Linked DNA regions of Homo sapiens: region 2 is linked to region 1. Evidence: fine-mapped expression QTL. A gene starts in region 1. The other region holds a variant in brackets. All regions are shown on one strand. Distances are from middle to middle.

Region 1 (12,362 bases):
TCCACAGCCTTAGCACAATGCTGGCACACTGAATGCACTTAATGATTGCTACATAACAACTCACATACTTTTTTTTTGAGACAGAGTTTCGCTCTTGTTGCCCAGGCTGGAGTGCAATGGCTCGATCTCGGCTCAACACAACCTCTGCCTCCCAGGCTCAAGTGATTCTCCTGCCTCAGCCTCTCAAGTAAGCTGGGATTACAGGCATGAGCCACCATGCCCAGCTAATTTTGTATTTTTAGTAGAAACGGGGTTTCTCCATGTTGGTCAGGCTGGTCTCGAACTCCTGACCTCAGGTGATCTGGCCACCTCGGCCTCCCAAAGTGCTAGGATTAGAGGCGTGAGCCACTGCGCCTGGCCAACAACTCACATACTTTTAAATATTTCTTCTAAGGGAAAAAAAAAACCATTTTCATTTTTTTCATTCAAAAGAATTTAACCATATGATGAACATGTCACCATTTCAGTAAGGCAAGTAAATGATTCAACTTCATCAACACTACTGAGGCTTGGGTTTTCTTTGCTCCGTTAAACAGATGCTGAGGCTCTGCTAAGGCTGCTACATAATGTCTGACTCTCCAAACAGGCATGATTTTGCCTAACTGCTACATATACCTACCTGGCTGAGCAGACCTGCTCAGGACCAACACCAGCCCTCATCATAAGCACTGGGTGACAGCCTAGCCCACGCTCAGACTGGAGCCCAAGGCATCTGCTTTGAGATCAAGTGCCCCACCCAGCTGCAGCCTGCTGTAAACCAACCCAGTACCTTGCAATCTCCTGGTGGTAATCATAGTGTTCATCCTCCTCCAGCCACTCCACAGACCCCGTGGTCGGATTGGCCCGACTGCAGAAGATCTTCATGGTGCCCACTAGCTCCCCAGTTTTAGCACAGAAAAGCAGCCTTGCCAGTTGAGTTCTTGTGGACAAGTCTGACTGTCAGAAATCTATTAACATCAGAAGGAAACAGGAGGTATATAAACAAACGAACAGAAAAAAAATCTATTAACAGCACAATGCCCCAAAATGTGGAGGGGGGAAGGGGAGACAAAAGCGGGGAAAAAAATCAAGAAACTGACAAAAATGTCAAAGCCACTGATAGTATTTGTTAATCGATATTGTAAATGTTTCCAGCAGGAGTTACTTGGTTTTATATTCAGCATATAACATTAAAAAACTACAACAGATTCATACAGATGTCTGGAAACTTCAGCAGGCTTCGGTGCTTCCAAAAGGTTCAAATGAGCCTCACAAGTTCATCTAGGTGCAGCCCTCAAGGCTAGGAGAAGAGATGGGGTACTGTTAAAGAAGTGCCACCAATACTGCCTTCGTATGCTGAACCCTTAGCTTAAGGAAAAATATGAAGATAGAGCAAGTCAAACCAGGAAAACTTTCATCTAAACAATAAATTACAGTCACACATAAACCTAAAAATGGATAATCCCAGGAATATAATGATGAGCAAAAACAGCAAATCACACAACACATGCAATACGATTCCATTTCTATGAAATTTATAGCTATGCAAAATGGAGTGATACGTTCTTCAGGGATCACACTAAAAAGCATAGCAAGGAATCAGGATAGTTAACTCCTAAAAGAGAAGGGAAAGAGATGGGATCAAGGAGGGGTACGCAGTGGACTTCAAAAGTATTGTTCTTTTTCTTAAATTGGGTGGTGGGAACATAAATGTTCACGATATTAGCATTCTTTTTCTTTTTTTTTTTTTTTAAAAGATGGGGTCTCGTTATGTTGCCCAGGCTGGACTCAAACTCCTGGGCTCAAGCATTCTTCCTGCCTCAGCCTCTCCAGTAGTTGGGACTACAAGTGAGTGCCCCACACCCAGCTAATACTAGCATTCCTTATGCTTCATTATTTTTTATAGTGATTACTTCTTATCTATTCAAATTTTAATTTTAAAAGCAATTTTTAAAAACCCTCCATCATCTAAAAAAATTTTGCTTCAAACAAGTAAAATGTCACCAGATTCACGTCTTGTATGGCCTGTCTCCCCAAAGAGATCTATTTCTGGGAGGGAGAGAAACACCACCGCTCAAAGTCTAAAGGCACTCCTCAGCAGGTGTGGGCTCTCCCAATACCCATCCCTCTTACCATGCAGAAAGCAATAGGTGTTCTACACTGCCCTTCCTTTCTTGTTAAACATTGGTGCATCTTCAGGAAAACTTAGAAAGAATGCCTACTCCACATATCCCTAAACATTCCTATGGCATTTTATTGGCCAGAGTTTTTTTTCTTTTGAAGTTATCTAGAGTAAGTAAACATGGAATTCTTACACAAATAGATGAGAAACAGGCTGGGCACGGTGGCTCACACCTGTAATCCCAGCACTTTGGGAGGCCAAGGCAGGCGGATCACCTGAGGTCAGGAGTTCAAGACCAGCCTTGCCAACATGGCGAAACCCTCGTCTCTACTAAAAATACAAAAATTAGCCAGACATGGTGGCGCACGTCTGTATTCCCAGCTACTCAGGAGGCTGAGGCAGGAGAATCACTTGAATCCAGGAGGCGGAGGTTGCAGTGAGCTGAGACCGCACCACTGCACTCCAGCCTGGGCAACAGAGTAAGACTCCGTCACCAAAACAAACAAACAAAAAGCAAATAGATTAGAAACAATCTTCCCTGAACAAACTCAGGCCGGCAGTCAGGTTCAAAGTAGACAATTTGTCCAGGTAAAACTCTACTACTAAAATCTCAGCATACCTATCCCCTAGTCTAATGATTTTCAAACTTTCTGATAACCCCAGTAAGAAATATACTTTAAAATGAGACTCAATACACATACCTGCATGTACGCATACAACTAAATGTTCCACAAAACAATACTGACTTCCTACGAACAAGGCCCTCTGATATGCTCTATTTCATTTTTATTGTTTTTAAGAGATGGGATCTCCCTGCTGTCCAGGTTGGATCACAGTGGCTATTCACAGGCATGATCATTACACTCTACAGCCTTAAACTCCTGGACTCAAGCGATCCTCCTACGTCAGCCTCCCAAGTAGCTAGACTACCGGCATGCACCACGGCACCCAGCTGCACTTTTACTTGCTGGTCAGGACCCATCAATGGGTTGCAACCAGCAGTTTAACAACATTGCTATAATCCACTTTATCTCATGTACTAACATTTATTTTACAGACAGAATATCTAGAACTGTCAGAATCTGTAATGTGCATTAGAAAACTGTGTCCAACAAATGTTGGAGTAGAGAAAGAAATGGCCATATCTGACTGAATGTTCAAGGAAGGCTTAAAAGGTGGATTCAGCTGAGGCAGGAGGAGAAGGAGGGGGTTGTGGACGGAGAAGGCATTTCATCCAATTAGAAAGGCTTAGACAATCATGCACATTATATCAATCAGTTTAGTGAAGTAAAACTGGACCAGGTGTCAAACATATCAATAGGATCCATATGGTAGAGTCCTGAAATACTAATCCTGTGGTCCATGTGGAATCAATTCTGAAGTCACTTCAAGGTTAAGAGTCATCGTTTTGTAGTTCATAAGCGTGATGACTGGGTGTTCATGTGCCTGTGTCAGACGTGCCTCCCTCAAACCTTTACTACATTGGCACGTTACCCATTTGAACTGGAGGAAAAAAAAAACTTATAGTGAAGAACTTTAATCCATAGGATTCCTTTCTTGTCTGTGATGTTGCTGAGTCTAAAACCAGGACCACAGTGTCTTTTCAAAACCTGGAACAGCCCAGGCACGGTGACTCACGCCTATAATCCCAGCACTTTGGGAGACCAAAGCAGGTGGATCACCTGAGGTCAGGAGTTCGAGACCAGCCTGGCCAACATGGCGAAACCCCGTCTCTACTAAAAATACAAAAAATTAGCCAGCATGGTGGCAGGTGCCTGTAATCCCTGCTACTTGGGAGGCTGAGGCAGGAGAATTGCTTGAACCTGGGAGGCAGAGGTTGCAGTGAGCCAAGATCGCGCCACTGCACTCCAGCCTGGGCAACAGAGCAAGACTGTATCTCAAACAAACAAACAAACCTGGAACTATGTCTTGTGTTAACAATTTTATGAAGGCATGAACCTCTTCTGGTGGGCACTACACACCTTCTCTGGCTGAATGCCCTCATCCATTATTATTTGTTCTCTCCCAGAAGCAGTCTACACTACAGATTCAGGAGATATTCTCTGAACCCCTCCTCATTCTCCAAGAGTTGTAAACTTGCATGGCCATTTACAAGGAGGAAATAGAAACCACCATGCCAAGCCCTAATTGTATTAGCCGTCAGACTGCAGAGCAGATGGTCCACTACATTCATTCAAAATGTATTTGCTAGGCGGTGGTGGCTCACACCTGTGATCCCAGCACTGTGAGGGGCCGAGACGCAAGGATATCGAGTCTGGGAGTTCCAGACCAGCCTGCGCAACATAGTGAGACCCCGTTCTCTACAAAAAATTTTTAAAAAAATTAGCCGGGCGCGGTGGCCTGTGCCTGTAGTCCCAGTTACTCCCAGCTACTCGGGAGGCTGAGGTAGGGGAATCACTTGAGCCCGGGAGGCAGAGGTTGCAGTGAGCAGAGATGGCGCCACTGAACTCCAGCCTGGGTGACAGAGTGAGACCCTGTCTTAAAAAAAAAAATATATATATATATATATATATATAAATATACATATATTAAAATTAAAAATTACCCGAGTGTAGTGGCGCGTGCCTGTAGTCCCAGCTACTCGGTAGGCCGAGGTGAGGATCGCTTGAGCCCAGGAGGTCAAGGCTGCAGTGCGCCTCGATCACACCACTGCACTCAGCCTAGGCAGCAGAGTGAGACTCTGTCTCGAAAAAATAAAATAACAAAATTTATTAAATACCTTCTATGTGCCAGGCACTATATTAGGGACTGGAGCCACCACCACAAGCTAGAGAAGACCCTTGCCCTCCAAGAGCTTAGACTCTAATGAGAGAGTAATACAAATTACAGACTACATGAATGCAAGAAATACACAGAGCGTTGTAGAAAGAGAAAACCAAGGTTACAGAAGGACTCTGAGGAAACTAGCATTTGAGATCTACAAGACAGACCGGGATAAAAGTTGGGGAAGAGTTTTTACAGGTCAGGAATCCTTACCCCAACTTTCCCAAGAAAAGGCCCTAAGGTAGAAAGAACTAGGTTGCATAAGCAAAATGTGCCAAAAGCCTGAGCGACCGAAGCACTTTTGCAGAAGCCCCCCGCTCCTCATCTCCTATCACATCTTCTGCTCAATCAAGCTGGGCCTTGTCGACTTCGGAAAGGCGTTTGGATTTTGTTCTAAAAGCACTGGGAGCCACTCAAGAGTTTTAAGCAGAAGCGTATCTACACTAGGCTTACGCTTTTACAGGACCACTCTGGTTGGCGTGTAGTGAATACACGACTCTCCAATTACTCAGAACAGTGAGTGGCAAAGACAACAGGTCTGGCAATCAGAGAACTCGTGGCCCAGTTAGGGGTGCGATGGTTGGAGCTACTGCGGTCTCTGTGGCTGAGGGGAGGCGCCAGGCACGAGTACTGCGACAGAGCCCCGCGAGTGGCAGGCACCCGGCTGCACTGCAGAGCCGGGGCCAGCCTAGAACCCCGCTCTCCTGCAGGCCCGGGTGTCCCGAGCTGCCCCACGCGGAGGAGTCCAAGTAGGCCCACGCTAGGCTCCTCTGCCGAAACCCTGGTGCCAAGGACACCATGCTCGCTGCACACAGAACCCCAAAGCGACCCCACCTTCCCAGCATACCCAGCGCCTCACCCGCCGCGGGAAACCCTCCGCTCGCCTCCGCTGCTACCACTTTTACCGCGGCCAGCACGCGGGGCGGGACCTCGCAGCGTCGAGGAGCGTGCTGGGGGGCGGGTCCTAAAGCAGAACTGGAAAGCTATCCCATCACACCCCGCGAGCTCCCACAGTGCTCAGCGGCAGCCACTATGGAGGCCGCCAGGACCGCTGTACTCCGGGTGAAGCGGAAGCGCAGTGCGGAGCCGGCGGAGGCTCTTGTGCTCGCTTGTAAACGCCTCCGGAGCGACGCGGTCGAGTCAGCGGCACAGAAGACGTCGGAGGGTTTGGAGAGAGCGGCGGAGAATAATGTCTTCCACTTGGTGGCCACTGTGTGCTCCCAGGTATTGGGCGTGGTGCAGCTGGTGTGGAGGGCATCTTCGGGTGCAGCCGGTACGAAACCCGATCCCTGACCCGCTCGCGAACTCCTGCTTACGCTGGCCTCCGTCCCCTGTTGCCCCCTAGGAGGAACCAGTCCAGCCTCTCCTGCGGGAAGTTCTGCGCCCGTCACGGGACAGCCAGCAGCGTGTCCGCCGTAATCTCCGCGCCTCGGCTCGGGAGGTCCGGCAGGAGGGCCGCTACCGGGTGCTTTCCAGCCGCCGATCCTTGGGGACCACCTCGAGCGGCCAGGAGTCCGAGTACACGCCGGGGAACCCAGAAGCCGCCGGGAACTCGGGCTTTCAGTTGTTAGACCTTGTCCACGAGGAGGGAGAACCTGAAGCCGCCTCTGCAGGCTCCTGCAAAGTGAGTATGCCCCTGAAGGTGGTCGCTGGGCTTCTCAGGATGGTAATGCAAGAAGACTGGGCCCAGTCGCAGCACAGTTTCATCTTAAGGGGATGGATGATCCATCCGGCGTGACGGCCTCATTTTACAGATTTGGTTGTTCATCCAACATGTGTTTACTACGTGCCTACGATATGCCAGGTATTTTTTTAGATTCTGTGGATACAGCAGTGAGGACCTAACATGCAGGTAGACAGAAACAGTAAACAAGTCTATTCAGTGTCAGATGATGATAAGGGATGTAAGGAGGCGGGGAGACAAAGCAGGAAGAGTGGTGCCACTTCAGTGAGAGTGTCACTGAGGAAATGACATTTGAGTGAAGACTTGCAGAAGGTGAATGGCAGGGTATTCCACATATCGAGAGGACTTCTAGGCAGAGAACCTGAAAGTAAAGAGGCCCTTAAGCCGTTTCTTTGCTCCTTGCAAGGTGCCTGGAGCCCGGTGAGCTAGAGGAGAGCAGTAAGGAATTTGAGGGGAGGATGCCTGCTAGGTACTTGCAAGGACATTGCCTTTCACCCTGACTGAGATGGGGATCACTGGAGCAAAATAGAGATAGAGCAGGTAGGAAAATTGATCAAAGAGAGGTTAAAGGAATAGTCCTGGATAGCATATCAAGTTTGAGGTAGATTTAGGTCTAGAATGCAAGTTTTCTCACATTTAATCCAGTGCTTTTCTTTATATTACATTTGCTAACTTCATTTGCAATCACTTCCAAAAAAAGTCTACTACATGCAGCAAAACTACAGAAATGGAAAATTCTCCTTGAGGCTGGGCACAGTAGCTGACGCCTAATCCTAGCACGTAGGGAGGCCCAGGCGGGAGGATCACTTGAGCCTGGGGAGGTCAAGGCTACAGTGAGCCATGATTGTGCGGCAGTGGCATTTCAGCCTAGGTGACAGAGTGAGACCCTGTCTCAAAAAAAAATAAAATACTCCCTGTAATCCCAGCGCTTTGGGAGGCTGAGGCAGGAGGGTCGCTTGAGGCCAGCCTGGGCAACAAAGCAAGACCTTGTCACTACAAAAAGGAAGAGGAAATTAGCTGGGCATTGTGGCACGCGCTTGTAGTCCTAGCTACTGGGGAGGCTGGGGCAGGAGGATCACTTAAACTCAGGAATTAGAGATTGCAGTGAGCTGTGATCAAGTCACTGCCCTCTGGTTTGAGCAACAGAGCAAGATACTGTCTCTAAAAAAAAAACCAGAAAATTCTCAACATAAAGTGTGCCCTCTCTTTTTTTTTTTTTTTTTGAGTCAGAGTCTCACTCTGTTGCCCAGGCTAGAGTGCATTGGCATGATGCTGGCTCACTGCAACCTCCAACTCCCGGGTTCAAGCAATTCTCCTACCTCAGCCTCCCAAATAGCTGGGATTACAAGCGTGAGCCACCACACCCAGCTAATTTTTGTATTTTTAGTAGAGACGGGGTTTCGCTATGTTGGCCAGTCTGGTTTTGAACTCCTGGCCTCAGTGATCCGCCCGCCTCAACCTCCCAAAGTGCTGGGATTACAGGCATGAGCCGCTGCGCCTAGCCAATATGCCCTCTCTTGATAAACATTTTTATAGAACTCATTTTAATTATTTTTGCAACTTAAAACAATTATAATTCAAAATGAATCCACAAGCAACAAGCAAATGGTACTAGTGTAATTGTTTATTGTTGTTTTTGTTTTGTTTGAGATGGAGTCTCGCCCTTGTCGCCCAGGCTGTAGTGCAGTGGCGCGATCTCGGCTCACCGCAGCCTCTGCCTCCTGGATTCAAGCAGTTCTCATGCCTCAGCCTCGCGAGTAGCTGGGATTACAGGCATGAGCCACCACACCCGGCTAATTTTGTATTTTTAGTAGAGACGGGGTTTCGCCACCTTGGCCAGGCTGGTCTTGAACTCCTGACCTCAGGTGATCCACCCGCATCGGCCTCCCAAAGTGCTGGGATTACAGGCGTGAGCCACCACGTCCAGCTGGTGCTAGTGTAAGTGGATAGCAATTTGTGTATGATGTCCATAGCCACATCTTTCACCAAAACATTCCAGACTAATGCATGACTTACAAAATGTGTAAAGTAAACCAATGCTCCGTGGAATTGAATCAAGTAAATAGTTCACTAGGCCGGGCACAGTGGCTCATGCCTGTAATCCCAGCACTTTGGGAGGCTGAGGCGGGTGGATCACTTGAGGTCAGGAGTTCAAGACCAGCCTGGCCAATATGGCAAAACCCCATTTCTACTAAAAATACAAAAATTAGCCGGGCGTGGTGGCGGGCGCCTGTAATCCCATCTACTCGGGAGGTTGAGGCAGGAGAATCGCCTGAACGCGGGAGGCAGAGGTTGCAGTGAGCCAAGATTGCACCACTGCACTCCAGCCTGGGCGAGAAGAGCAAAACTCCATCTCAAAAAACAAGAGTAAATAGCTAATTTAATTTTATAAAGAAAACTAGGAGATAAACTGATGACCGATATGAACAGAGATTTTTCCAGTAAAGCAATACCGACTCTAAACATACCAAAAATGTTTGCACAGAGTAATTATAGGGGAAAAATGAATTTAAGCTTAAAGCATGCTTGAGGTTTTATGCATACTAGACTAGCAGGAAAAAAGTAGTTGATAGCAATGCTGGCAAGGCAATGATTAAAAGCGTACACAATTGTAGGAATAAAATTGATGCAAGCCTTTTGGAAAACAGGATGGCATGGGAGCCATGTTTTACATATGTAAATTTATTATTGTTTGGATCTAAAGCCATGCATAATCTAGGAAAATTTTAAAATTAAAAATTTCTAAGGAAATTTAAAAATGACAGCATTTCTATGTTATGTTACAATGAATTTCTCCTTAAATTGACACAATTTACATTTTAAGCAAATAAATTCCTATTAGATAAATTTAATAGGAAATTTAAAAATTAAAGGACTTCAGTTCCTTTTAACTAGTAGTCTCACCTCCAAGATTTATCCTAGGGAGATAATTCAGCAGAAGCAAACAGCTAAGCTAAGCTATGATATTAACAAATGCTACTGTTGATTGACTAAGTAATTATGTCAAATAGCGTGCTAGGTACTTGTTATATTTTCTTTTAATTTAACTCATTTAATCCTCACAAAAACCTTATGAGTGAGATACTTTTCAAATGCAGGAAATGGCACATTCATTGCAACACTATACATGGAGGTTAAAAATTATATCCAAGAGGTTGACACATACAACTGTCTGGACCCTTAGAACTGATAACCATGAAAACTGATTGTGGGCGAAAATATATATGTTTAACAGTACAAAATGCTGTGTGTAGTGAAACTGAAAATATGGGCTGGGCTCAGTAGTTCACACCTGTAATCCCAATACTTTGGGAGGCCAAGAAAGGAGCACTTGAGCCCGGGAGTTAAAGACTGCAGTGAGCCATGATCATACTGCTGCCCTCCAGCCTGGGCGACAGAGCAAGACCCTGATTCTGAGTGAATGAATGAATGAATGAATGAATGAATGAATACACATGGACATAGACTTCAAAATAATTTTCAGCAAGGGTACGGTGGGTTACTCCTATAATCCTAGCACTTTGGGAGGCTAAGGCAGGAGGATTGCTTGAGGCCTGAAGTTCAAGACCATCCTGAACAACATAGCAAGACTCCATCTCTACAGAAATAATAATAATTATTTTTCTTCTAGCTAGGAGGAGTGGTGCACACCTTTAGTCCCAGCTACTCAGGAGGTTGAAACAGAAAGATCATCTAAGGCTAGGAGTTCAAGGCCAGTTTGGGCAACATAATGAAAACCGCCTCTTTAAGCAATAATAGGCCGGGCGCGGTGGCTCATGCCTGTGATGCCAGCACTTTGGGAGGCCAAGGTGGGTGGATCATGAGGTCAGGAGTTTGAGACCAGCCTGACCAACATAGTGAAACCCGGTCTCTACTAAAAATACAAAAATTGGCCAGGCATGGTGGTGCGTACCTGTAATCCCAGCTACTCAGGAGGCTGAGGCAGGAGAATCACTTGAACCCGGGAGGCAGAGGTTGCAGTGAGCTGAGATCACGCCATTGCACTCAAGCCTGGGTGACAAGAGCGAAACTCCATCTCAAAAAAGAAAAAAAATAATTTATGCTCATTATGGGAAATTTGAAAAAATATAGCAAAGGAGGAAAATCTCCCATTTTACCATCAACCCAAAAGTAGGTAGAATAGAACTGGTTTATTTCCTTCTGAGTACAAAATTCTGTATCTGTCATTTTTCTGTATTGCTAGTCTTGTACCTTTTTTTGAGACAGCGTCTCGCTCTGTTGCCCAGGCTGGAGTGCAGTGGCATGATCACGGCTCGGTGCAGCCTCCACCTGGGCTCATGTGATCCTCCTGCCTCAGCCTCTCAAGTAGCTGGAGCCACAGGCCTGCGCTACCACACCCAGCTAATTTTTGTATTTTTTGTAGAGACGGTTTTGCCATGTTGCCCAGGCTGGTCTCAAACTCCTGGGCTCAAACATTCCTCCGACCTTGGCTTCCCAAAGTGCTGTGATTACAGGCATGAGCCACTGTGCCCAGCAATCTTATATTTTAATGGCTGCATAATTTGACTGAGTGGAGGGACTTAGGGGTTGGAGCCAGAACTTTTGTCATAGGTAACTTTAAGTTTGCTCAAGGTTCTGCAGAAAAACTGGCATCTCTAGCTTCTTTTTGACTTTGGAGCAAGGAAGAATTCCTTAGTCTGTAAATTATAGCATTGGTCTCCCCTTGTCTGCCTTGGCCATGGGATCTTCCCCATTTTCCTGCGTGGTGTCTGCTTGGAGCTGTGCAGTGTCCTGTGATGAACCTATCAAGAGGAGCCATCTGCAGCATGTCCCTGTGGTTAATAAACTGACCCATGCTACCAGGCCCCTGGATAATACAGCCTGTCAGCACTGGAGCACATCTTACCTGGGCCATTTCTATTCTGGGGCATTGCATTTCAAACTGTTCTTTCCAGTAGAAAGACTATAGGTGAGCCCATTCCCAATTTGTGGTTAAAAGTAGGATGTCAATATATGGCAAGCCAAATGATGGGCAATGGTAGAGGTCACCAGGAAACACCTGTTGGCTTCTACAGGAGGCCACACAAAATAGAGACTCATTTCAGGTTCAGCCATAGGGGTGCTACGGTGGACCTACTGATCCCCAAAGAGAGAACATTGTATAATACCAAAGGATCTCAGAAGACCTATAGAAGCAGGTCTGACTCAGAGCTTGGGGTCAAGACTGGCCAGGTCTTCTGTCTTTCCCCTCTCCTTAGGCCAGTCTTCCCATATTTTTTTTCTTTCATTGTTTTGAGATAAGTCTTAATCTGTCACCCAGGATAGAGTACAGTGGCATGATCACGGCTCACTGCAGCCTCAACCTCCTGAGTACCTGGGACTACAGGTGCACACCACCACACCCAGCTAATTTTTGTATTTCTTTGTAGAGACGGGGGTTTTGCCATGTGGGCCAGGCTGGTCTTGAGCTTCTGGGCTCAAGCAAGCTGTCCACCTTGGCTTCCCGAAGCATTGGGATTATAGGTGTGAGAGCCAAGCACAAAAGAGCAGGAGCCTATCTTGTACGTTTCTATCTTAAAGTAAGAACTACACATTAATTTTACAGAGATTCTTGATTTTTTAATGTAATAATTAATTAAAAGACTAGGAATTCATGGGGATAAGAATCTTGACCACAACACTATGGAACTGTAGCTGAGCAAGGTGGCTCACACCTGTAATCCCAGCACTTTGGGAGGCTGGGGCGGGCAGATTACTTGAGGTCAGGAGATCAAAACCATCCTGGCTAACACAGTGAAACCCCATCTCTACTAAGAATACAAAAAATTAGCC
Region 2 (12,362 bases), 42 kb before region 1:
TTATCAAATATATATCCAGACGGTTCTTCCCTAGAAGAAAAACAAGTCTTTACACCTGATAAAATATTTTGCGAAGAGAGGTGTTCTTTTTCCTTACTGGTGCTGAAAGGAAGGATGGATAACGAGGAGAAAATAAAACTGTGAGGCTCAAGGCTGGTGTTCTCCACTTATTTCAGCGACAAGCTGGGGCCAGGCCTCAGGGGCACGCCTGGGGGCAGGGGAGGGAGTTCCTGCCCCCAACTGCAGGACAGGCACTGCCCAAGTCTGCCCTGAATCCGAGGACACCGGAACTCTGCTCATACAGGCGGCTCGGCTGGCCTGGCACAAGCCTCACCTTCTAAGCTGCGAGCCAGAGGCCACTGGGTTCTCTCACGTGGTGTCTGCTGTTACCTCTGAGAGCTGGGACATAACCAAAGGGGGGTTAGTGTGTGAGAGAAGCAAGGCCACGGCACCTACTGACCTTCCTGGTGAAGCGGCGCTGGGCAGGGGCTGCTCCCTGCCATACCCCACCTGCAGGAGGGGCTTTCCAATCTGAGGGAGGTGCAGGGAACAGGGCTGCCTCCCAGCTCCCCTGACAGCCACTTTCCTGGGCCTGCATCTCAGGAACTGCTCTGGGACAGCTGCCTTGTGTCCAGTCTCAGGTCCTGGCAGGCCACCAGCTGGTGCAGCACTGAGGCCAGACACCTATGGATGTGGCTTGAAGTTACCTGTCAGGTGAAAGGGCCAGAACCCAGGCCTCTCAGCCCGGGCCCAGCCAGGGTCTTCAAGCCCCAGAGACCCAGCCACAACTCAGCATCTCCACCCTCCTAGCAGAAGCCAGAAGAGCAGGGACCCGGAGATCCTCGAGAGTGAGACAGACAGGACAGGCTCCCGCCACGGGGACTGCTCGCCAAGGGCGGCGTGGACAACCCCACCGGCCAGCCCCACAAGCTCCCTGTGCTTCCACTCCCTTCCCAGCTGGGGAGAGATGTCTCTGTGTTGGAGCATTCTCAGCACCTCAGAAGCACAAGCAGGGGGGTCTTCCCAGCCCCTCCAGGGCTCCAAATTCAGTCACCCTCTCATGCTTCCTGCCACAGCTGGAGCCAGAGGCCAGCAGTGCAAAGATGCAACAAGATGCAACACGGCGCAGTCTTTCCCATCCCTGAGGCCGAGCAGCTCCCAGAGAGGAGAGGAGGGCCTTCAGCCTTCCCCGCTAGAAAGCCATGAGCCACTCAGAACCCCAGCCCTCAGGCCACTTTATTGCTCAAGAGTGGTCAGTCTGGGGTATCTGCATGCCTGAACTCCATGATGATGTCGCCTGTGTCGGGGTGAAACTCCACTGCATAGCTGACAGTCCGTGGGCCACCCAGCAGTGCTCTGGGATCTGGGGCAGGGCTGAAGAAGTAGACGGCCTGCTTGCAGTGGGGGTTCCAGCAGCAGCCCCCCTGTAGGAAGAAGAGCAGGAAGATGGTGAGGGCTCCCTGGCACCTGAGCCTCCTTCCTAGCCAGCCTCCAGCCCAGGCAGCTCGCAGCAGAGAGAAGCTGCTCAGGGGCCAGATGGCCCAGGACCACTGAGGGGTCATCATCTGGCCCGAAGAACTTGTGACAGAAACACCCAGAGCATGGGGGCAGGGAGGCCTCCCCAGGCGGCGCCTGCTCTCAGGGTCTGCACGCACACTGGGCCCGGTGCGCAGGCACTACCTCGGGGTCTGCAGGCTCCAGGAGGCCAGTGCTGAGCGTGCACTCCGGGGTCAGGTGGTACTCCATCCATAGCACCGCTGCGTGGCTCTGCCCGGGCCTGTCAAGGAGAGGGGGGCCCAGCAGAAGTAGTCACACAAGAGGCAGCGGGGGAACAGCTGCAGCTCCTGCGGCTTTCCAGAAACCTGTGGTCTTCCCCACTTCCTTCCTGCCCTGCCGGGAGTTCCTAGTGCTGCAGTTACATAAACGTTCCTCAGAAAAACCCCAGCCAGAAGAGCCGCAGCCAAGCCCCCACCTGAGCCAACCCGAGCCCTGCAGCCGGGCCACACATGGGGCAGGGCCGGTGTGGCTGCAGGGTCTGGGGGAGCTTGAGGCACAGCCTGGCACTGAAGGCCGGAAGGCCCCTCTGATGCCCCAGACAGCAACCCTGGGAGCTCAGGTGATGGCGCCCGCCCTGCCTGGCTGCCTGCCCCGAGTTGGGAGGTGCTTCCAGGAGAAGTCACTCCTCGGGCGAGGGTGGGGTGAGGGCCGGAGCAGGACAGGGCTGCCCGTCCCTGGACGCAAGCAGCACTTGCTGACCCTGACCTGCTTCAGCTCCCAGGAGGGTTCAGGAAAATGGTGCATCGGTGACCACAGGAAGTAAGCTCCCATCTTCCTGAGCTGTGATCCAACAAGGGAGCCTCAGCTGTAGAGGGGGAGCAGAGCCCTTCCTGGCTCCTCCACCAGTGGCACACACAGGACCGTGGGAACCACCACACGCGCAGGGCCACTCTGACAGGGAAGGGCAAGGTTGTGGGGAGGACGAATACCCCCTCCACGTGTCAGCGTCTCCCAGGCCAGCTGTGCTCACCACGGGGGTGAGAACTCCAAGGGCAAGCAGCAGCCCCTCCCTGCCCCCCAGCCCTCTCTGCACCCACCTTCTGAGCTCCACGGTGCCCTCGGCACACAGGGGCTGCAGGGGCACCGGCTGCTGGAAGTCAAAGGTCAGGATCTGCCAGGGCTCGGAGAGGCTGCGGCATGGGTACTCCCACAGCGGGTGGGGCTCAGCTTCCCTGCTCTCCCTGAAGTCCAGGGCACGCTGCGAACAGAAGGGGGCCTGGGGGCTGCAGAGACAGGCCGGCAGCTAGACAGAGGTACCGCTCCCCGGCTTGGCTCCCACTGACTGCAGTCACAAGGGGTGTGCGTTCTCCCATAAAGATGCCGAGCGCCCAGCAGACCAGCGGCGCCCCCTCTCTGCCACTTCTCTCTCATCAGTGGCTCCCCAGGCACCGCTGGCTCTGAGCCTCGCTCTCCGGATTTTTAAGATGGGGTGGTGCTGCCTGTCTCAAGCCTTCTGAGGACCACATATCTACATCACTGGTGAGAACACCCAGCACCTAGAAACTTGGTGACCACCACAGCTGTGTGGCCCCGACAGGTGGGCCCCGGGCCACAGGGAGGGATAAATGCGTGACAGTACAGCCCCGGTGCCTGGCGGCAGGCTGGGGGCACCTGCATCCAGGAGGGATGCAGAAAGCTACCTGGAGGAGGGGAGGTGACGGTCAAATGGGAGCCGGCAGGAGAAGGGCCAGAGGGGGCCTTGAGGATAGAGCTAAGTCAGGAGAGCAGGCCAGGGCACCCAGGCCAGCCGGGCCACTCTGCAGGTGTGGTGTGGGGAGCCAGCTAGGGCATTCCTGCAGTGGGGATGTGGCCAGACTCAGATCTACAAGTTCATGTGGGCTCCGTGTGGAGGACGGCCAGAGCAGGAGGGGCTCAAACCAGGACGGCAGCAGTCAGGGGACAGCCTGGGTCGGAGGCTCACCAGGAGCACGAAGACCAATGGCAGGGGATGGGAGGACTTGCCAGGGAGGATGCCCGGGGCCCTGGGCCTGGCTGGTCGTGTGAAGTGGCGCCAGGTCTAAGACAGGGCACTGGAAGGGCCAGGCTAAGGGTGGGGAAGGGCAGGTGGATTTGGAAAGCATAGAAGTAAAAATGCCTGGCACCCCACTGTGGGATACCCACCACTCTCGGCCATCTGCCTTAGCACACGAGAGACAGACACTGGCCCAGGACCAGAGTAGCAGAACCGTATCAGCAAGAGGGGACAGGGACAGCCAGGGTGGGCAGGCCATGAGCAGGGGCCCAGAGGAGGCGTAGAGCGCATGGGTCCAGAGCACGCAGGGCTCAGCACGAAGGAGATTTCTAAAAGCATCGAACAGTCAATGGTCTGCTGTGAGGGGCAGATAAGATACAAACTGAAAATATCCACAAGGTTTAATTTACTTAAAAAAGTGTTCACACACAGGCAATCCATGTTCACTATGGGAAAATGAGAGCAGAAAGGTGAGCAGAAGCAGAAAAGCCCCACCTCCCGATGCATAGCTGCTGCTGCGGGGCCACCGCTGCTTCCCGCTCCTCTGGTGTCCATGAGATTTCTTTTTTTGAGACAAGGTCTTGCTCTGTCACCCAGCCTGGAGGCAGTGGCACAAACGCAGCTCACTGCAGCCTCGACCTCCCAGGCTAAAGCCATCCTCCCACCTCAGCCTCCTGAGTAGCTGGGAATACAGGTGTGCACTACCATGCCTGGCTAATTTTTTGTTATTTTTTGTCGAGACAGGGTCTTGCTATATTGCCCAAGCTGGTCTCAAACGTCTGGGCTCAAGCAATCCACCAGCCTCAGGTTCCCAGAGTGCTGGGATGACAAGCAGGAGCCACGTGCATTTCCTTAATACACAGCACGGCCCATGCTCCTCACCCTGCCCCTCTCATGTGGATGGAACACGACTCTCAGCTTCAGTCCTCATGAATCCAAGGACCACTGGCGCTGTCAGGACAGCCCATGGTTCTGGAGAACGTAGGCCCAGTTGCTAACCCCTACCATGTAAATAACCTGTGGGAATCTCCTCAGGTACCCCTCCCGGGAATGGAGCCCCCACCATGGAAATGGCTGCCTAAGAAGGTTCCCAGATGGCCTCTGGAAAGTCAGCCCCACTAGAAAAGAAGCTGTGGGCACTGGCAGGGGCAGTTGCAATGACAGGACGTGCAGGCCCAGTGGAGATTCTGACACAGGGTGACAGCACGGAGCCAAGAACAGGGCTGGTACCAAGCAATGCTCATGTTGAACCACACAAAATGGCAGCACCTGACCTCACTGCCCCCAACAGAAGAGCCTGTGCTGCCCAAGCTGGGACCCTGTGAGAGGCCTGCGATACAGGAGCAGGTCGGGGGTACTATGCAGAGTGTGGCCCTGCCTACCTTAATCATGTCGTCCATGATGTGCACGTCGAAGCCTTCGCAGTCACCACAGGGGCTCCGGATCCGCCACAGGTCCTGTGAGGAAGGAGCAGCCCCGTCCACACCCGCCCGCCAGGACACAGGGAAGCGTGGCAGCAAGAACAAGAGGCACATCTTGCTGTTCCCTGCACACCTGAAAGAGACCCCCAAGTATGAAGGGGCTCAGAGAGAACAAAGATCCACAACGGTTTCTGTAACAGACTGGGCTGGGCGGGAACCTGCAAGCTCTGACGTGACACCTGAGTCCTCTCCTATAAGGGACAGTCGGCCAGAGCTCCTAGGCTGGGGGCTGCACACTCCTATCCGGGCCATCCTGAACATCATTTCTTTGGGAAGAAATCTGTAAGCCAATTCTCTCCCCAGCATCATCTCCAGTTCATGAGGATGCTGGGGAGAGAAAAAGGCCCTGCCAAGAGGAACCCAGAGGACACTCAGGCCACACAGCCTTCCCTCCCTTCCTCCTGGTCACACGCACGCATGGATCGTGACATCCCCTCTTTGGCCATGAAAACCAGAATTCATGTGGAAATCTGATTAGGTAAACAAGTAACACAGGAGAAATGCCCAGACTTTCAGTGATGGAGCCACTAAGCTAGGAGAGAAAACCACTCTCATCAAATGAGATACACTCTCCATCCAGGGTAAAGCTTTTCAAATCCTTTTAATAAAAATGCCCTTCCCAAAATGACTTTGTGACTATGGTTCTGCTTTGATGAGAAAATTAAAAGGAAGCTTTTCCATTTTTTCTTGCACAAAGCAGCTGACTCTCCCATCTCAAAATGCCTTTAACAATCGAAGCCTCGGCTATTAATGAGAGCAGAGCAGGCCACACGGCATGGCTTCTGAAACGCTTAATTTATATTTTTAAATTATTCTGATAAGCCACAATTGTAAAATGACAACACTCAGCCATTTCCATTTCGTATGTCAAATTATCGCATTTTTTAAAAGGCAAGCATCTTCTATTCAACCCCACAGTGTGCTGACACAGAAAGAAAACACAAGCTCAAATCATCAAGGCCTGAGCCGCTCTACAGGCACCCAAGGTTCCTGCAAGAAAACAAGGTTCCCCACCCGCCTCCTCTGCTTTTTTCTCCAACATCCCCTGGGTGGCCTACCCTGAACTCCACAACCACAGCGTGCAGCGAGGCTGCCTGGGGCATCACCATGGCACCTGGCCCCAGGTGCTGGTCCACAGCGGTCCGCACGTACCAGAAGTAGAGGTTGTGCCACGGCAGCAGGCTGGTAGTGAAGAACGGCTCGCCCAGGAGGAGAGAGACCTGGTGAATGGGCGAGAAGCAGGGCCCAGGTGTCAGTAGGGCTCGGTCCAGGAGTGTTAACAGGAACACGGAAGCAACAGGCCACTCAGTCACTCAAGTCACTCCCTCACTCCCTCCCTCTCCCTCCCTCACTCAGTCACTCACTCATTCCCTCCCTCCCTCATCAGTCCCTCCCTCCCTCAGTCAACAAACAAGCAAGGCAGCAAGGTGCTCTGTACCTGCCCTGGAGGCTGTAAAGATTACAACCAGACATGAGTCCCGTGCTCAGGAGAGCAGAGCAGAAGAGGGAAGCAGACAAAGTGGGGCTGACCCCATGTGATAGAAAAAAGCAAGGAAGGGGGTCATGGAGGGAGCCCAGAAATAAACGTGCCAGACGGGGCTTCCAGAGTGGCATCCTGTCAACCCCCACTGGACGCTTTATCTCAGGACTTACCGGGGCTTGTCTCCGTCTCCCTCCCCAGGCTCTGAGCACCACAAGAGCAGGGACTGGTGGCCCAGCATCCCCCAGCAGTGGGCCAGTGCCGTGACCAGATGTTCTGTGAACATTTGTGAGTAAATGAACACGTGCACAGCGAGGAGCCTGAACGGCCGAGGGAGGGGCAGCAGGGGCAAGAGTGAGGCCGGGAGACAGCAAGGCCCCCCAAGGTGAGGGTGTGGAGCTGGACAGAAGCCAGCCCAGCCCAAGGCAGCCAGGACAGGGTGAGGGGCTGGACTCATCCCGGAGG[C/T]GGCAGTGGGGGTGGTGGATGTCACTAGAAGTTTTCATCAGGGTTCAAAATCAGAAGGAATGTGATTTAGAAGATGCTGCTGAGGACCACGAAGTGTGGAAGGGAACCTGCAGGTGCTGGGGACGGAGGCGACCTGGGAGAGTGCAGAAAGAGTCCGGGTAAGAAACGGAGACTACAGGGTGGGAGGGGTGGGAGGAGTGGAAGGAGTGGCAGAGGGTAAGGAGGTAGCCGACCCTGGGCAGGCCCAAGCAGTCAGGCACCAAAGTGGGGCCAGTCAGAGATGATGGAGATGCAGCAGGAAATGCTGGCAGACAGAAGGGGCTGCCCTGAGTGCTTCCTCGCCTCCCCACACAGCATCAGGAACATGGCAAGAACGCCCGCTCCCACCACTCCAATTCAATGTGACCCCGGTCTACCGGTACACCACACAGTGGCTTTCAGAATCATCTCCTATGCCCTCATCTATGAGGGAGAAAAAAGGCGACTTGTGGATGAATATTTATAGCAGCATTACTCACAACAGCCCAAAAGTAGGAGCCACCCAAATGTCCATCAGCTGAGAAACAGATAAATAACATGGTCTATCCACACAATGGAATCTTATTCAGCAAGAAAGAGAAATGAGGTATTGATTCAGGCTACGACATGGATGAGCCCGAAAACATGAAGCCACATGAGAGGCCAGCCACGAAAGACCACACACTTGTCTGATTCCATTCACACAAGATGCCCAGAATGGGCAAGCTAAAGACAGAAAGGAGAAGAGTGGGTGCCCAGGGCTGGGGGACTGCGGACAAATGGTGCATGACTGCCAATGGGTAATGAAAGGGTTCTTAAACTGATGTGGTGATGGTTACACAACCTTATGAATATACAAAAATCACTGAGTGAATCGTAAGGTATGTGAATTATATCTCAATAAAACTGTTATTTTTTTAAATGGGCAAAAGGCTTGAATAGACATTTCACCAAGCAAGACAAGCACACGAAATGATGTTCACCATCATCAGTCATTGGGCAAATACAAATTAAAACTATGTGGAGACATCACCACACTCCCATTAATATGGTTATGCTAAAAAAAAAAAGCCAATGCCAGGTGCTGGTGAGGATCCGAGAACCTGGACCCTCAGATGTTACCGATGGGGATGTCAAAAGGACAGCCACTTCAACCAACAGTTCAGCAGCTTCTTAAAAAGTCGATCGTAACTACCACATGACCCAGCAATCCACACCAAGGCATCTGCATAAGAGACTGAGGACATACATCCTCTCTAAGACCAGTGAATCCATGTTCACAGAAGCCTTATTCAAAGTGGCCAAAAACTGGACACAATCCAAACGTCCATAAGCACATGAATGGATAGCCACACCGTGGAATGCTACACAGCCTTCAAAAGAACGAAATGGGTGAATCTCAAAGACATTATGCTCAGCGAAAGGAGCCAGACTCACAAGACCACACACTGCGTACCTCACTTTTGAGATATGCCAGAAGAGGCACATACTGGAGACACAAACCAGACCAGTGGCTGCCAGGCCTGGGGCATGGGGATGCAGACTATCAACAGGCTCCCAGGAATTTGGGAGGTAACAGAAATGTTCTCTTTTCATTCCCATTTTTTTTAGAGACAAGGTATCACTCTGTCAGCCATGCTGTAGTGCTCTGCCACAAGCACGGCTCCCTGCAGCCTCCAACTCCTGGGCTCAGGCGATCCTCCCACCTCACCCACCTCAGCCTCCTGGGACTACAGGCACGTGCCACCACACTCGGTTAATTTTTTTTGTTTTTATAGAGACAGGGTCTCCCTATGTTACTCAGATTGGTCTTGAACTCCTGGGTCCAAGCGATCCTCCCACCTTGGCCTTCCGAAGTTCTGGGATTACAGACATGTGCCACCATGTCGGGCCTGGAAATGTTCTAAATGAGACTGGGTGACGGCTAACTCCATATATTTACTTAAAAAAATCACTCAACTGTACAATTGAAATGCATTAATTTTGTGGTATGTCAACTACATCTCAATAAAGCTGTTATTTAAAAAAAGACTGGCAGGAAAGATGAAAGATGATAGCTCCGCGTTGGGTGAGTCCAGTTTGTGGCATATTCAAGGAAAGGTGACAGGATGGCAGCTGGACATGAGATTTGAATCCAAAATAGTAAAGAGTGAAGGCCGGCTCTGATGGTCACTGATTCACACATGAGAAGGAACGTGATTACCAGAGAGGATGCAGTAGGGGAAGCGGGGGACACGGGGAGAGTGCCACGGAGCAGTGCAAGGTAAGGAGCAGCCAGGAAGGTGAGGGGAAAGCGACCTCCCCAGCACAGGCAGAAGTCCCGGGTCACAAGGACAAGCGGGTAGAGCAGATGAAGCCTGCAGGGAGACCGTGGGAGTAACGACGAGGTTGCTGGCAGAAGCAGTTTCAGGGCCCGGAAGCCTGACTGCAGCAGGAAGCCGTGGACGGGGAATGAAGACAGGAGTGCGGTGGAGAGGAAAGGACATGCTCTGCTCCTAGGAACCCCAAGAGAGCTGCTCTGTCCTGACCTGAAGGAGCAGAGATGAGGCTGAGCTAAGAGCAGTACAGCCAGGTGTGGTGGCTCATGCCTGTAACCCCGACACTTTGGGAGGCTGAGACTGGCAGATCGCATGAGCCCAGGAGTTCAAGACCAGCCTGGGCCACATGATGAAACGCTGACTCTACAAAAAATACAAAAATTAGCCAGGCATAATGGCACATGCCTACAGTCCCAGCTACTCGGGAGAGGTGGGAGGATCGCTTGAGGCTGGAAGGTCGAGGCTGCAGTAAGCCAAGATCGTGCCACTGCACTCCAGCCTGGACGACAGCGCGAGACCCCATTTTCAAAAAAAAAAAAAAAAAAAAAAAAAAAAGAGCAGTGCAACCATCTGCTCACCGGGCAGCTCCATGAAAGCTTCACCACACCCTTGATGGTGGGAGCTCGTAGGAGGTAAGGTTGCATGTGGAGGACCCACTGTGAGACTCCAGGGACAGGGTGGGGCCTGGGCTACTTCAGTGCCGTGCTGACCACCCTAACACAGCCCAGCGTGGCCAAAAGGCTCCCGCTACTCACCTTTCTGCCCTGTAGGTCCTCATTTGTTAATAATTCCGGCCGTTTCTCTATGATGTTAATTTTATCTTCCAAGTGGTTAGCCTTGAAGATCTTAGAAAGAAAACCGTAAAATTACTGTATTCATACTAAAGTATTGTGTTTGTCAGGAAAAAAAAATCTCTCAAAGTTGCATTCTCCGCTTTGAATTTTCCGGCAAATGGTTCTGGAACACCACTTTTATCTGCTTTGTGGAAAAATCCTCTCCTTGGGGGGCATCCTATAGACCACGGATGAGATCAGGAGCACAATGTGATAAAAGCAAAAGAAATTTCTCCCGCATGTGCACACCAGGACTCAGTGCGAGCCTGCAGTTCTGGTGAAGGGAGTTCCCCTTTGGAGAGGAAATCAAACCAGTTACTGGCCAGGGAGAGAAATGCCATCTCCCATCAGGCTGTGAGCACTGGCTCCCTCAGCACTGATGTCCCAGAAACACATCCTACATTTAATTCTACCGCAACAGTAGCTTATGTGAAGTGAGGAAAAAAGCCTAAACTTCTTCAGACACAAAAAAACAAAGCAGAGTGCAAATGCCTGCCTCTATTTCAGTGACAGCTCCCAAGGCCTCTGGCTGCTCTCCAGGCAGCAACCAAGACAACACAGGGGTGCAAGCGAGCCACCACTCCTTTGTTCCCCTGGGGCCAATGCCACTTCAAAGCCATCAACCCAGACCCCACAGGTCCTCTCACTATTTCAGCAACAACAATTCTCACTTACTTTTCTCAACAGTTTGTGAGAAGCTGCTGAACTCTCGACTGTAAACACCTAGAGGGAACACCACGCTATTAGTTGTAAGATATTCACTTAACAGAGAAGAAATTAAAGATTAAAATGCGACAAGACCATCCTAAGACAGAGGACACACCTGAACAACCCTCCCTGCCCTCATTCCCTCCCTGGGGCAGCCTGAACACCAGCTCTGAGGCCTGACGCCTGCCTGCACGCACAGGCAATAAACCCCCCAGCCCCTGACCCGAGCATGCTGTGCCCACAACAGTGGCCTTTGCAAAGAGCCTTGATCACAGAATTGTGCACCCGGACCACGCAATGCTCTAACTCACAAGCCCACATCAGGAGGCTGACAAGGGTGCATGTCAGTACCTGCTCCACCCCCAGGTGATGGGCCAGCACGGAGAGCAGGCTGCCATCGCTGACACACAGGCACACGCTGTCTGGCTTCAGCACCTGCGGGGAACAGGCAAGCTCAGCACAGGGCTTCCTCCAGTTTGCCAGAAGATTCCTGCTGGCAAGCTGTCAGAAATACTTCCCTTCTCACTCCACTTGCCCAGACCTCAGACCATCCCCCTGCGTCCTCATGCAGTAACCACCCCCAGCCACAAACATGCCCGCCTTGCTCACATCTCCCCACCTGTCCCCAGTGTCAGGAAAGACACCCCTCAACCCAGCCTAGAGGCCCCGCTGAAGGCCTGCACCACCTGCAGGCCACCTTCCAGTCCATGACAACAGGCTTCTTCCCTGTCTGGTTAGAGCACAGACAGCTGAGAGCCTCCAAGGCTTGAGTGTTCACAATTGACTGCCCAAAGGCAAGGATGCCTTTCTGGGTGACAGACCCCTCTGAGAGAAACTCAGGATGGCTTGGATCCTCCCCCCATCCCCCAAAATGCACACATTCACACCTATTTCTGTACACACCCCCAAGGGCCTCAAGAGACCCTCCCTCTAAGCCCCATCTGTAATCCCCAAGCCGAGTCCCCTGCTACAGGTAGCAGGGAGCAAAGGTTTTCAGGCAGGAGAGCGACATGATCAGATTTACATCTTAGAAAATTTTAGAAAGGTGACAACACATGAAAAGAGGGGGTGGCCTAATCCACCGTGACCACCCACAGCAATGACTGTGTCTGACAAGGCAAAGGTGTCCAGCAGGAGCCCAGCCAGAGGCTCTCCCAGTAGAGCAGAGAGCAAGCCCTCAGGAAGTCCAGCCCCAGGCTCTCCCGCTTTCTGCTCCAGTGCCCACCCAGGAGGCGCTCGCTGAAGCCACTCATAGACAAGAGGACACAGGAAAGAAACAGCAAATCATAAGCAAAGTGCTGGGGTTCATGGGACAAACTTCTTTCTCCCTTTTCCCCACAACAAGCCAAGGGGCTGGACACTTACGGTCCTCAGAGCCTGGACGTATCGATCAGTTCTGTCCTGGTCATTGATCTCTCCAAACCGAGGCCGGTTCCAGAGCAGGTGAGCCTGGCAGTCACACACGGGGCGCATCTGGCGGACTCTCTCATTCTTTTCAGGGCTAGGCCAGGAGATGAACAAACAGACGTG

Evidence for each region.
Region 2: its variant is fine-mapped to the expression of PRMT7 in cerebellum (GTEx, PIP above 0.99). The same link has a PIP of 0.9 or more in cerebellar hemisphere, cerebral cortex, gastroesophageal junction, hypothalamus, nucleus accumbens and tibial artery.

The regions. Positions count from the first base shown.
Region 1 is chr16:68,304,482-68,316,843 of GRCh38, reverse strand. It overlaps PRMT7 (protein arginine methyltransferase 7), which reads right to left and starts at 5,825. Exons shown (of 19, transcript NM_019023.5): 1 at 5,745-5,825; 2 at 4,668-4,802; 3 at 770-947. The coding sequence starts at 864. SLC7A6OS (solute carrier family 7 member 6 opposite strand) reads left to right here and starts at 5,898. Exons shown (of 5, transcript NM_032178.3): 1 at 5,898-6,109; 2 at 6,231-6,509. The coding sequence starts at 5,918. LOC124903789 (small nucleolar RNA U13) reads left to right here and starts at 3,504; the gene lies at 3,504-3,605. RefSeq lists an enhancer at 5,929-6,893.
Region 2 is chr16:68,346,116-68,358,477 of GRCh38, reverse strand. PRMT7 (protein arginine methyltransferase 7) reads right to left here. Exons shown (of 19, transcript NM_019023.5): 11 at 12,198-12,333; 12 at 11,184-11,267; 13 at 10,800-10,847; 14 at 10,047-10,136; 15 at 6,069-6,230; 16 at 4,912-4,986; 17 at 2,595-2,755; 18 at 1,681-1,777; 19 at 1-1,424. The coding sequence ends at 1,254. SMPD3 (sphingomyelin phosphodiesterase 3) reads left to right here. Exons shown (of 9, transcript NM_018667.4): 9 at 1-151. Among named protein-coding and RNA genes, the nearest start is that of PRMT7, 41 kb to the right of the region's middle. RefSeq lists enhancers at 1,727-1,886, 9,274-9,774. The variant C/T (reference allele first, on the strand shown) is at 6,956.